Homo sapiens: one gene and its partners. The protein of the gene in region 4 purifies or fractionates together with the protein of the main gene of each other region. This does not show direct contact. Each region holds a gene or a part of one and is shown on either strand. Other genes may lie near its edges.

The links. The genes of interacting proteins can lie anywhere in the genome.
Region 1: the proteins of ACTR2 (region 4) and HSPBP1 fractionate together in Homo sapiens (co-fractionation; 2 studies listed by BioGRID). This does not show direct contact.
Region 2: the proteins of ACTR2 (region 4) and PPME1 fractionate together in Homo sapiens (co-fractionation; one large-scale study listed by BioGRID). This does not show direct contact.
Region 3: the proteins of ACTR2 (region 4) and ARPC4-TTLL3 purify together in Homo sapiens (affinity purification with mass spectrometry; 2 studies listed by BioGRID, with this or other methods). This does not show direct contact.

What each region holds. Positions count from the first base shown.
Region 1 is NC_000019.10:55,266,611-55,270,110, reverse strand, and holds part of HSPBP1 (hsp70-binding protein 1), read left to right. Parts: intron 1-3,500. UniProt on the Homo sapiens protein: Inhibits HSPA1A chaperone activity by changing the conformation of the ATP-binding domain of HSPA1A and interfering with ATP binding. Interferes with ubiquitination mediated by STUB1 and inhibits chaperone-assisted degradation of immature CFTR.
Region 2 is NC_000011.10:74,177,789-74,181,288, reverse strand, and holds part of PPME1 (protein phosphatase methylesterase 1), read right to left. Parts: intron 1-3,500. UniProt on the Homo sapiens protein: Demethylates proteins that have been reversibly carboxymethylated. Demethylates PPP2CB (in vitro) and PPP2CA. Binding to PPP2CA displaces the manganese ion and inactivates the enzyme.
Region 3 is NC_000003.12:9,823,548-9,827,047, forward strand, and holds part of ARPC4-TTLL3 (ARPC4-TTLL3 fusion protein), read left to right. Parts: intron 1-2,252; coding exon 2,253-2,401; intron 2,402-3,449; coding exon 3,450-3,500. Other genes in the region: tubulin monoglycylase TTLL3, read left to right, coding at 2,253-2,401, 3,450-3,500.
Region 4 is NC_000002.12:65,244,831-65,248,330, forward strand, and holds part of ACTR2 (actin-related protein 2), read left to right. Parts: intron 1-1,693; coding exon 1,694-1,909; intron 1,910-3,500. UniProt on the Homo sapiens protein: ATP-binding component of the Arp2/3 complex, a multiprotein complex that mediates actin polymerization upon stimulation by nucleation-promoting factor (NPF).

The DNA.
Region 1 (3,500 bases), on a different chromosome or scaffold from region 4:
TGGTGGCTGCAGGGTATGCCATTGTGTGGCTGTCCAGTACCATTACTGGAGTTCCGTGCTGGGAGCCATTTGCAGGGTACGTCCCCTCAGCTCCTGCTGCCCGAGGCGGTGGTGCCACTGCCCTTCCCAGGACAGGAGGGGATGGACTCGCTCGCCCTCTGTGGAGCCACTCCAAAGTGGTTCCTTGTTACAGTCTACCAGAGTGGCACATTTATTACAATCGATGAACCTACATGGACACCTCATTGTCACCCAGAGTCCATAGTTGACACTGGGGCGCACTCTTGATGCTGTATGTACTATGGGTTTGGACAACTGTATCATGACATGGATCCATACTGTAGTATTCTACAGAGGAATCTCGCTGCCCTACAAATCCTCTGTGCTCCCGCTAGTCATCCCACCCCTGAGCTTTTTACTGTCTCCATAGTTTTGCCTTTTCCAGAATGTCATATGCTTGGAACCATGCAATCTGCAGCCTTTTCCGACTGGCTTCTTTGGCTTAGTAATCTGCTTTTAAGGTTCTTCCATGTCTTTTCTTGGCTTGATAGCTCATTTCTTTTTAGCGCTGAATAAGCGTAACTTTTTTAAGGGAGATGTGTGGGCTGCAGTGATGACTTTGGCTTTCTTTCCAAAAATGACGGCAGCCATACTGTGATCCCTGCCCCCAACTGCTGCACAGAGAAGAGGGTGAATGCGGCGAGGGTGGGTGGAAGGTGGGCGGTGAGCTGGGGGGTTATGGTGATAACCTAGGCAAGAGATCAAGGTTGTGGTAGGGAGCAGTGGTTCTCAAACAGGGACAATCGTGTCCTCCACAGGACATTTAGACAAATGTCTGGAGACATTTTTAGTTGTCGCAGCTGGGAGAGAGGGACTATTGGCATCTACTGGGTAGAGGCCAGGGATGCTGCTCAACATCCTGCAATGCACAGGACGGGCCTCCCAACCCAGAATGATCTGGCCCCAGATACCAACCGTGCCCAGGTGGAGAAACCCTGGCGTAAAGGGGACAGGTCTCTCCTGGGTACATTTTGAAGGTAGAGCTGACAGGCCTTGCTTACAGATTGAATGAGAGGAGTCTTTGTGTTTTCCAGTCCATGCATGCCTGTTCTTTTTTCTTTCTTTAATTAAATAACATCTGGCTGGGCGTGGTGACTCATGCCTATAATCTCAACATTTTGGGAGGCCGAGACAGGTGGATCACTTGAAGCCAGGAGCTCAAGACCAGCCTGGCCAACATGGTGACACCCTGTCTCTACTAAAAATACCAAAAAATTAGCCAGGCATGGTGGGGCATGCCTGTAATCTCGGCTACTCGGTAGGTTGAGGCATAAAAATTGCTTGAACCCGAGAGACGTATGTCGCAGTGAGCCAACTGCCACTGCACTCCAGCCTGGGCGACAGAGCGAGACTCTGTCTCAAAAATGAAATAAAATAAACTAAAATAAATAAATATGTAACCCAATATGTCCAAACTATTATAATTTCAATGTGTAATTAATATGGACTATTAATGAGACACTGTATTTTTTGTCATGCTAAGTCTTCAAAACCTAGTGTGTGCATTTTACAAATGAAGCACATCGCAACATGCTGAGTTTTCAGGGGTAGTGTGGAGTGCGCCAGAGCAACAACGTTGTGTGTGTTTTTCTTTTTTTGGTTTTCTTTTTGTGTGTGTGTGAGATGGAGTTTCGCTCTTTTTGCTCAGGCTGGAGTGTAATGGCGCAATCTCGGCTCACTGCAACCTCCACCTCCCGGGTTCAAATGATTCTCCTGCCTCAGCCTCCCTAGTAGCTGGGATTACAGACGCACGCCACCACGCCCAGCTAATTTTGTATTTTTAGTAGAGACGGGGTTTCACCATGTTGGTCAGGCTGGTCTCGAACTCCTGACCTCAAGTGATCTGCCCACCTCGGCCTCCCAAAGTGCTGGGATTACAGGCATGAGCCACCGCGCCCAGCCAACGTTGTGTTTAATGGAAAATATTTTACACTGCTTCAGTTTTTCACCTTAAGTTTAAATGAATGGAACTTAAATGAAATGAACAACTCTTTTCCTTAGTTGCACTGGCCACATATCAGGTGTTTAGTGGCCACAAGCTACTAGCAGCTTCTGTCCTTCTTGGCCAGCACAGGCCTAGAGCCTACCCAGGAGGGGGCACCTTACTGGAGGTGCACTCCAAAGGTCAGTTCTCATCCTGCTGGGAGTCCTTCCAGAGTTCTCATTGCCCTCTGGATAAAGGTCATGCATGCTGTGTAGCCTGGCTCTTTAGGCCTCAGTTTCCTCATCTGTAAAATAGAATTCTGAAAGCACACACTTCCAGGATAATTGTGAGGATTAAAAGATGTTGCGGACTGGGGACGGTGGCTCACGCCTGTAATCCCAGCACCTTGGGAGGCTGAGGCAGGTGGATTATGAGGTCTGGAGTTCAATACCAGCCTGGCCAACATGGCAAAACCCTGTCTCTACTCAAAATACAAAAATTAGCTGGGTGTAGTGGTGCATACCTGTAATCCCAGCTACTCGGGAGTCTGAGGCAGGAGAATAGCTTGAGCCTGGGAAGCAGAGGTTGCAGTGAGCCAAAATGGTGCCACTGCACTCTAGCCTGGATGATAGAGCAAGACTCTGTCTCAAAAAAAAAAAAAAGAGAGAGATGACACAGCCGGGCGCAATGGCTCATGCCTGTAATCCCAGCACTTTGGGAGGCCCAGGCAGGTGGATCACTTTAGGTCAGGAGCTTGAGACCAACCTGGCCAACATGGTGAAACCCTGTCTCTACTATATATACAAAAATTAGCCGGGTGTGGTGGCAGGTTACTATAATCCCAGCTACTTGGGGGGCTGAGGCTGAAGAATAGTTTGAACCTGCGAGCGGAGGTTACAGTGAGCCAAGATTGCTCCACTGCACACTCCAGCCTGGGCAACAGAACGAGAGTCCATCTCAAAATGAAATAAATAAGTAAATAAATAAAATAAAAAAATTAAAAAAGATGATGCTTCCATCAATGGAGGAATGGATAAAATATGGTATATCCATACAATGGAATGTTATTCAGCCATGAAAAAGAATGAAGTGCTGATACCACTTACGACATGAATGAACCTGGAAAACATCATGCTGAGTGAAAGCAGTCAGACACAAAAGGTCACGTATTTTATGGACACATTTATATTAAATGTCTGGGACAGGTAAATCCATAAAGGAAGAAAGTATATCTGTGGTTGCAGGGGCCAGAGGGAAGGGAAATTGGGAATGACTGCTCATAGGTTTCCTTTGGGGGGTGATGAAAATTTCCTAGAGTTAGTGGTGATGGTTATACAACCCTGTGAATATCTTTAAAAGGCTGAACTGTGTGGATTGTGAATTATATCTCAAAAGCATACTTCAAAAAAAGATAATGCTTGCATATGCAGGCCCATGGCAAGGGATGATAGTGGTTGGTGGTGATGATGGTGACGATGATTGACGATAATTATATTGTTAATGGTAGTGATGATGA
Region 2 (3,500 bases), on a different chromosome or scaffold from region 4:
ATCATGAGGTCAGGAGATCGAGACCATCCTGGCTAACAAGGTGAAACCCCGTCTCTACTAAAAATACAAAAAAAAAATTAGCCGGGCGCGGTGGCAGGCGCCTGTAGTCCCAGCTACTCGGGAGGCTGAGGCAGGAGAATGGCGTGAACCCGGGAAGCGGAGCTTGCAGTGAGCCGAGATTGCGCCACTGCAGTCCGCAGTCCGACCTGGGCGACAAAGCGAGACTCCGTCTCAAAAAAAAAAAAAAAAAAAAAAAAAGTGAAGAAAATGGAAGGCATTGCCAACAAAATAAACTTGGCAATTGTTAAGTGCAAGAAACACTTAGGAAATTACCACTGCTTAGGACATGACTTTGGAGCGCTTTTAACACTAGCCTTTAATGGTGGACCACTTGCTCTGGTCCCTAAACTTGGTGAAGGTGCTTGGAAAATAGTCTTCGCTCTTAGAGAATAAGTGATAAATTGGGCAAGGGCAGAAAAATTGAATACTATAAAATAAGGCTAGTGTGAAAATAATTGCTAATTGACATTTGCTGTCTTATAATAGTGGACTTGCTTTCAGGTTTGGGGAATCAAAGAGGAAGACATAAATTGTCAAATTTTGATAAAATAAAAGTAACAAGCCTGAATCTGTACATATCATGAGACCTATTACAAGCCTATTACAAGACCTATTACAAGAGTTTCGACCATATAATTATTTTAAATCTCAAAGTAACATATTGTAAACACAATACATTTTACCTAAAAGCTGGTATTGAAATAGAGATTCTATTATTCTATGAAGTATAACCGCTTTTAGGAGAAAGGCAGTATAGCCCTAGTTATACCATCTTAAGGGAACTGATGGGGAAATAACGTTGTTCTTATAGAACGGGGTTAAATAGGCCAGGATTTGGGTTTCTCGTTCAGTTAGCACTAAAGGAGACAGCATTCTAAGCACCAGCAAAATTCAGACACAATTCCTACCCTTATGAACCTCAACAGTTTTGAGGAATACACAGTTGACCAATAATTACAATTCAGAGGACTAAGGAGAATAGAGAATGTTCTGCTTGTCTACAATGTGATATGCCTACTAGGAGATAATGACCAAAACCAACAAAATTATATGATCAAATCCTAAGGAAAGCCAGGAGGAAGGAGAGAAAGGGGAGAAAGGGAAGGAGGAAAAACCTTCCTTGCCTAGAGAACAATAACCAAGAAATGTAAGTTGTATGTTTTTACATGAATGTCTCAAATCTAAATAGGAATAACACATCAACATCTAGGCTGCTTAAGTCTGTTAAGAGAGTTATTGATGAGTCATGAATGGGCACAGTAGCAGTCTTAATCACTTGTTGTCACAAATTCTGTCAAAGTCTAGGAGTCTGGTAGTGGAGGCTAAATACTGAAGTTTAATTGCAGCCAGCTATTTAAATCAAGGCACCACTGTTTTTAAAATGTCCTTATTAGCAGTACTTTGAAGAGAATGAAAAGAAAGCAACCAGATGGCTGGCTGAGGGTTGTGGTAGGTCTGAAGTGTTCCTTACTCCAAGGCATGCCATTAAGCAGCAGACTTCAGGATTCTAAAAACTACATCATGAATCATGCTGTTAGAGATCATCTAACTCAAATCTTACTTTATGAAAGGAAACAACTAGGTGTTTATTACGTACCAAGCATGGTTTTGAACAGTACCATTAAAGTATTCTCATTTTAAGGTGACTCAGAAATACTAAATAACTTTCCCAGAGCCATTTTTGGTAGCACCGGAGCTTGGATTTGACTTTTTATTTTATAATTACTATTTTTAGAGATAGGGTCTCATTCTGTCTCCCAGGCTGGAGTGCAGTGGCACGATCACAGCACACTGCAACCTCAAACTCCCAGGCTCAAGTGATTCTCCCATCTCAGTCTCTCAAGTAGCTGGGACTAACAGGTGCGCACCACCATGCCTGGTTGTTTTGTTTTGTTTTAGTACAGACAAGTTTTTCCTATGTTGCCCAGGCTGGGGAGCTTGGATTTAAACAAGTACGTCAGGTGCCAAAGCGTTCTTTCTTTCCATGATAACGAGGCCCAGGAAGAGAAACTGACCAGAGTCATACAACTTGTTAGTGGCAGAGAGAGGATGTCTACTTAAACCTGGAAAAAGTCTATGGCCAAAAACACACACAGAAGCATATAGGAAAAGGACTGATAAGTAAACAACTTCGGTCTTCCGGTGTGGTTTGAAATGATTGGAATTTTCAATATAATCTCTTATTCAATCTTCAAAATATATTGGTAGAATATACCTGTAACTTGTAATCAATATTGTATTTGAAGAATATCTAAGTGTGGCCACCCTCTTAATAGAACTATTAATTAAAAGTTTCTTCTCTTAAAAAAAAAAAAACTATTTTGTAGTTTGAAGGAAACAGTCTTTCCCAAACAACTAGAGATGTTTTCTGAAATCTGACATCAAGTAGCATAACATGGAAGGCTCATTAGGTTTAAAATAAAACAAAAGAGCAAATTACCCAATTTTGGAGATACTAAGAAGAAATAGATTTGCTGGCAATAAGCAACAATGGAAAAACGGACTTTTACTCAGAAGTTCTGAAATGAATGTCAAGGGGCTGAAATCTGGCAATAAGGGGCAGGGGAGTTGGGGGTGGGATTATTACTTCCTATACTTACACTGCAATGAAAACAGTAGGGAAGTTGAAATCAGAAGATTAGGCTTCTCCACTTGTTAACCTCAGGATTTGGGCCAGATGCTGTTTATTCTCTATTCCAGACATTACCTGCCCACTTCCCACTCTCTCTTCCCTAACAGAATTGTAATACTTTTGTTTGAGCAGCTAGTGGAGATCTCTTGTTGTCTCTCCTCCAGTCCAAGGGAATGAATCAAAATTGGTCTAAACCAGTCATAGTTAATCCCATTCCCTACTGCCAGTGATTGGTTTTAGGATGGGTATGTGAACAGTTCTGGACAATAAGACTTAAGGGAAAAATCTGTTGGGGAGCTTGCATTTCTGGGAAAAAATTAAAAGACAAGCTTAGCTAGGAAAGGACTTTGGCCCCCGCTTCTTTTTATTTGTAAAGATAAGATAGAAGTAGAGTGGCAGCAGCCATCCTGCAACCATAAGGTGACAAGCAAGAGAAGGAAAAGCCACCATTCTAAGGATGGCAAAAGAAAGGATGCAAACAGCCTGGGTCCTGAATGAAATTGTTTAGCAACTGAATGAACCCTGGAACATCCTATCAATAATAAATGTCCTTGTAGTTTAAACTACAGTAAACTGATAACAGCAAATTAGATTGTTTCACATCAATATAATGTTGCTAATGTGAGTTTGGGGATTTTTGTAGACTTAATTGTATTTAAAGAGTAAATCTACTGAGTTTCACAATTATTTAAGAGTACTATTGAATTTAAGTAATATTAGATTGAATATAACTTAGGTCAATACTTGGAATCTGAAATATATTTCCTTCAAAAGGGATTCATACAAATTGAAAGATACCATATTTCTT
Region 3 (3,500 bases), on a different chromosome or scaffold from region 4:
AAATTACGCTCCTGTGTGATATTTTCCTGGGCCACATCACAGATTACTGAAAAGATACTTCATGCTACGGACCACAGAAAAGTTTGTCAGGACATAGGTGTGAGTACTCCTGGGAGACCTTGCCTAGCCCCCTGCATCTGGCTGTCCCTGTTCCTGGCACTGCCCCAGTGGCTGCTGCCTCCTCCTTAAAAAAGAGAAAGTTCTCCATGACTGGAGACACTCAAGATGCTAAGATGTCACAGAGTTAGCTTCCCCTGAACAGGAGGCTCCCGTCCTATTCAGTCAGAAGGAAAGAAATGCGAGAGTCTGGATGAGGCAGCCATCTGGGGTATTTTGTGACTTGGTTTAGTTCAGGACATTTTCTGTCTTGTAGAGAACAGGGTCCCTCTTTGTCCATGAAACCCTGTCCGTGCAGCCCAGTTGCTGAGGCAAGCTCCTACCAAAGTACTTGCTGAGCCAACCGTTCATTCATTGAGCAAACTTCCAGGGAGTACCTGCTGAGTGCCAGGTGTGGTGCTTGGGGATGGGGATTATAGCAGAGAACAACTACAGAAAATGTTCCTGCTCTTACGGAGTTTACATTGTAGTTAGGGGATTCAGACAATAACCAAATAAGCACATGTGTTAGGTGGGGGTAGATGATGGGAAGAAAACAAGCAAGAAGAGGTGTGATATAGAAGTGCTTGAAAGGAATTAGGCTAACATTGTTTCAGCCAATATTAGGCACAGATTAAGACAGGAATGAACCCCAAAAAGCACCTGTGGGTGGAGGAATCAGACAGGACAGAGTTTGAATCCTGGCTGAACCACTCAACTTTCAGTGTATGGCCTTCGGTAAGTCCCTTAACTCTCAAAGCTTCAGTTTACTCTTTTTGTTTTTTGAGATGGAGCCTCGCTCCGTTGCCCACACTGGAGTGCAATGGCGCGATCTCGGCTCACTACAACCTCCGCCTCCTGGCTTGAAGTGATTCTCCTGCCTCAACCTCCTGAGTAGCTGGGATTACAGGTGCCCACCACCACACCCGGCTAATTTTTGTATTTTTAGGAGAGATGGGGTTTCACCATATTGGCCAGGATGGTCTCAATCTCTTAACCTTGTGATCCGCCCACCTTGCCCTCCCAAAGTGCTGGGATTACAAGCGTGAGCCACTATGCCCGTCCCAGTTTACTTTTTCTTTTCTTTTCTTTTCTTTTTTTTTTTTTTTTTTTTTGAGACGGAATCTTGCTCTGTCGCCCAGGCTGGAGTGCAGTGGTACGATCTCGGCTCACTGCAACCTCCGCCTCCCTGGTTCAAGTGATTGTCCTGCCTCAGTCTCCCAAGTAGCTGGGATTACAGGCACCTGCCACCATGCCTGGCTAATTTTTGTATTTTTAGTAGAAACAAGGTTTTGCCATGTTGGCCAGGCTGTTCTCGAACTCCTGACCTCAGGTGATCCGCCTGCCTCCGCCTCCCAAAGTGCTGGGATTACAGGCAGGAGCCACCGTGCCTGGCCCAGTTTACATTTCTCTAAAATGGGACCAGAGCTGGGTGTGGTAGCTCATGCCTGCAATCCCAGCATTTTGGGAGGCTGAACAGGAGGATGGCCTGAGGCCAGGAGTTCAAGACTAGCCTGGGTAACATAATAAGACCCATCTCTGCAAAAAATAAAAATTAGCTTGGGTGTGGTGGCGTATGCCTGTAATTCCAACTACTTGGGAGGCTGAAACTTGGACCTAGGAGTTCCTGGCTGCACTGAGCCGTGATTTCACCACTGCACTTCAGCCTGGGTGACAGACCAAGACCCTGTCTCAAAAAAAAAAAAAAAAAGTCGGGGGGTAGGGGGTGGGTACTAGTAATACTTCCCTGGCAGGGCCTTGAGGGCATTCGTGAAAATATATGGAAAGCCCTTGTCACAATGCCTGGCACATAGTGGTGCTTTATCATTAGGAACTGGAATGATTAAATTCTGTCAAAGACAGTTTTAATGTAATAGGAAGGGGGTGGCACAGGTGGAGTGTTGGAGTAGGGGGTGGTTTGCAGTTAATGGAATTTTATCAGCCTTTCCCATTTGTGTAGTCTGGGCAGGTTAGGATTTCCGGGGTGGCTTGAAGGTGGGGCCGGAGGCTTGGGAGGGACCTATGGATATCTGCAGGGAGGGCGTGACCAAGGCTGCCTGGATGACGGCGGGGGATGGTGGAATATATCTCCCCCTGCCCTCTCCACCTGCATGTCCCAGGTCCAGCCCTGCCCAAGTTCTATCATTTCCCCACAGCGAAGGGGCAGAACTCAGGCACCTCGACACTCAGGTCCAGCGCTGTGAGGACATCCTGCAGCAGCTGCAGGCCGTGGTACCCCAGATAGACATGGAAGGGGATCGCAACATCTGGATCGTGAAGCCAGGAGCCAAGTCCCGCGGACGAGGTGGGGGTCAGCTCCTGCTTCCTGCACTGGCACCTCACCACCTGCATCTACCAGTAGAGGCCAAGGAAGTTAATAGTGCAGGTCTATTGAAGCCAAATTGCCTGGGTTTGAGTCCTAGCTCTGCTACTAATGTGCTTCGTGACCTTGAGCAGGTTTTAGCGCCTCCCTGAACCTCAGTTCCCTCATCTGTGACATGAGGAGGATGATAATACCTCCTGTGAGGTGAGGATTAAATGCAGTCATGCAGCTAAAGCACTATTCCAAATCCTCAACGTGCTTCAATTTATGCAATCCTGGGAAACGGAGGCACGTGTAGGCTTTCACATGATCCAGAAGGATATCCATAAGGTCCTGGAAGCAGCAGTTGGCTGCCTCTAGACAAGGAGATACATTTTTTATTGTATGCCCTTTCGTACTGCCTAATTTTTGTTTTGTTTTATAGTCTATTTATTATTGGTAGGAACGTAATAGGTGCACATACTTTAAAAAAGCCCCCAACACTGGCCAGGTACAGTGGCTCATGCTTGTAATCCCAGCAGTCTGGGAGGCCGAGGCGGGTGGATCACTTGAGGTCAGGAGTTGGAGACCAGCCTGGCCAACATGGTGAAACCCTGTCTCTACTAAAAATACAAAAATTGGCCACGTGTGGTGGCAGGCACCCATAATCCCAGCTACTCGGGAGGCTGAGGCAGGAGAATCACTTGAACCCGGGAGGCGGAGGTTGCAGTGAGCTGAGCTCGTGCCACTGCACTCCAGCCTAGGTGACAGGGCTGTCTCAAAAAAAAAAAAAAAAAAAAAAAGTCCAGCACTTTAAATTTGTATCCATGTATGTATTCCTGTTTAATCAAACAAAACTGGTTAATTAGGAAAAATTTAAAATCCTTAGCAAATTCCTGGCTTTCCCAAAGGGAACTGGGTTCTGATTGAGGGAGACAGCCTTACCCACTCAGCCCTATCAGCTCCGAGGGGACAAGAGCTCATGACAAGCTGGCCCTTCTCCTGGCCCACGCCTGACCTTCCAATCCCTGACTGCCCTCTTCCCCCGTAGGCATCATGTGCATGGACCACCTGGAGGAGATGCTGAAGCTGGTGAACGGCA
Region 4 (3,500 bases):
CTTGGGAGGCTAAGGTGGGAGGATCACCTGAGCCTGGGGAGGTTGAGGCTGTGGTAAGCAATAATGGCACCACTGCACTCCAGCTTGGGTGACAGAGTGAGACCCCATCTCAAAAAAAAAAAAAAAAAAGAGTGTAAACATTTAATATTTCAGATATTTGAGTAATAAGTTAGTAAGTTATGGTAAATGAACTTCATAAGAAATTGCAACAAATTTTTACTGAGCATTTCTAGCATCTGTTTTTAACTTTGTTATACTTTTTGATGCTTTTAGTGGATTTTCCAGAGATCTGTTTGGTTTTTTGTTAGAGTCCTCACCTTGGTTTCATCTCTGATATTTTCTTTTTCTTTTTTTTTTAATTTAAAACTCATATATTTTTAAGCCTTTGTTTTAAAACATCTCATGTTGGCCAGGTGTGGTGGCTCATGCCTGTAATCCCAACACTTTGGGAGGCCGAGATGGGTGAATTACTTGAGGTCAGGAGTTTGAGACCAGCTTGGCCAACATGGTGAAACCCCATCTCTACTAAAAATACAAAAATTAGCCAGGCGTGGTGGCAGGTGCCTGTAATCCCAGCTACTCAGGAGGCTGAGGCAGGAGAATCGCTTGAACCTGGGAGGCAGAGGTTGTAGTGAGCTGAGATCATGCCACTGCGCTCTAGCCTGGGCAGTAGAGCGAGACTCAGTCTCAAAAAAATAATCTCGTGTTAATTTTGCTGCTGCTTTTTTTTGTCTCTCCATAATTAAAACTTAACGTATTGTAGCAAATATCTACTTCTGATACTAGTTTTTTTAATTGAATTTATCAACATATGTAGAAATTAGTATTATTTAACCTCTTGACTAGCTGTTCTCTAAAAATAAGTCTAAATGCTAGGACATCCTTACTTATTATATATAGAAAATGTGACTTTCAAATGTGGGTCATCTTAAGTATGCTCTCATTGGAGACAAGACTTGTGAGTATTATGCTTCATGTGTGATGGTGTAGTTTTCCAGTATACTTTAAGATTGAAAATGTTGCTCAGGAGACAATTTTAAAGGATGGGTTATTTGCCTATATCTTAATTTTTTATAACTCTACAAATTCTCATTCACCTTGGTGAGGCATATGTAGAAACAGTTTAAATTCTTATTCAGGCATATGTAGATAGAAGTTTGTGCTATTTATTAGTTGGTGTATGTATGCATTATTATAGAGTAATAAAGAATCATTTTATTTTTTGCTTCTTTCATTATGCTTTATAGTACTTACATTTATCATTTTGATATTTAGTGCAAAGAAATGTGCTGCATGCATTGAGCATTTTTCTACAAGTTTTTTTCCCCCTGATGTGCTATTTCACATATCACAGGCCTTATTTTTTGAACAATTGAGCAAAAGAAACAGATGAAACCTCATACAAAACCCTCCAAAATATGAAAATGTGGGGTTTATTTGTGCTAATGCTCTTCTTTTGGAAACATTTGTGTTAAAGGTAAGGTCAATTTATTGATTTAAACCACATTGTATGTAAAAATGTATTATCCATGATTAAACTTTCTAAGACATTGTTCTTGATAGAAAAGATTTTCTAACTTGTGGAATAAAAAGATTTATTTTGCAAGTGTCAGAAATATTAAAATTAATTATTCCCAAGTTTTCTTAAATATTATGCAAAACTTTGATCTACAGCTTTGACATAATTTTCTAGGATCTTATGGTTGGTGATGAGGCAAGTGAATTACGATCAATGTTAGAAGTTAACTACCCTATGGAAAATGGCATAGTACGAAATTGGGATGACATGAAACACCTGTGGGACTACACATTTGGACCAGAGAAACTTAATATAGATACCAGAAATTGTAAAATCTTACTCACAGAACCTCCTATGAACCCAACCAAAAACAGAGAGAAGATTGTAGAGGTGAGTTTTTATGCAGGATATGCATATGTGTATTTCTGTGATATTATGTTAAATCAAAAATTTTCTTACTGTTGCTATGGATAAAGAGAATAAAAATAATTGTTTTCCTTCAGATCTTATTAAGTATCTACTATATGCTAGTCATTATTCTAAGTAGGAAAGTAGGATAGATCAGTAAACAAAAAATCCTACTGCCATGGAGTGTATATATTCTAACAGGGAAAAACAGACCAAAAAAATTAAGTTTTTAATTTAGTGAGTTAATTAAGTTAATTAAGTTTTTATGGAGGAGCCAGCAGAAGGAGACTGAAAAGGCTAATACAATAAGCAGTTACAGAGTTAATTAAATGGTTTGTTAGAAGGTGAGTGATCCAGTTGACCCATGAGCAATGCAGGGGTTAGGGGCACCAACCCTCCCTACTCACGTGCAAACTTAACTACCACCCAAAATACTTAACTTCTAATAGCCTACTGTTGACCAGAAGCCTTACTGATAACATAATATGTATTATATACTATATTCTTAACAATAAAGTAAGCTAGAGGAAATACTGTTAAGAAAATCATGGCCGGGCGCGGTGGCTCACGCCTGTAATCTCAGCACTTTGGGAGGCGGAGGCGGGCAGATCACAAGGTCAGGAGATCGAGACCATCCTGGCTAACACAGTGAAACTCCGTCTCTACTAAAAATACAAAAAATTAGCCGGGCGTGGTGGCGGGTGCCTGTAGTCCCAGCTACTCAGGAGGCTGAGGCAGGAGAATGACGTGAACCCTTGAGGCAGAGCTTGCAGTGAGTGGAGATCGTGCCACTGCACTCCAGCCTGGGCGACAGAGCGAGACTCCGTCTCAAAAAAAAATAAAAAATCATAAGAGAAAATACATTTACTATACCTTAAGTGGATGTAGATCATCATAAAGATCTTCATCGTCATTGTCTTCACACCGACGAAGAAGAGGAGGGGTTGGTCTTGCTGTCTCGGGTGGCAGAGACAGAAGAGGTGCAAGGGGAGGCAGGAAAGATTTATTGACAAAAATCGTGTATAAGTGGACCTGTGTGGTTCAAACTTGTTGTTATTCATGGATCAGCTGTAGATGCTAAAGGCAAAATAAATCAGGTTAACGGGGAGTGGGAGGTTGTAATTGTACATAGGTTGTGAGAAGGTGATGTTTAAACAGACAGGGTAAGTGAGTTAGCCAGGGTATATAGGAGAATGGTATTCCAGATAAAGGGAGTAGCCAGTGTAAAGGTCTTAAGTTAGGAACAAGCTTGGTATATTAAAGAATAAGCAAGGAAGCCAGTGTGGTTGAGGAGAGAGCAACAGAAGATGAGGTCGAGTAAGTAATATTGGTGCCTTGTAGGCTCTAATTAGGAATTGGGCGGCTGGAAGTGGTGGTTCAGGCCTGTAATCCCAGCACTTCTGGGAGGCCGAGGTGGGCGGATCACGAGGTCAAGAGTTCGAGACCAGCCTGACCAACATAGTGAAACGCCATCTCTACTAAAAATACAAAAATTAACTGGGCATAGTGGTGCGTGCCTGTAATCCCAGCTACTTGGGAGGCTGGGGCAGGAGAATCGCTTGAACCCAGGAGG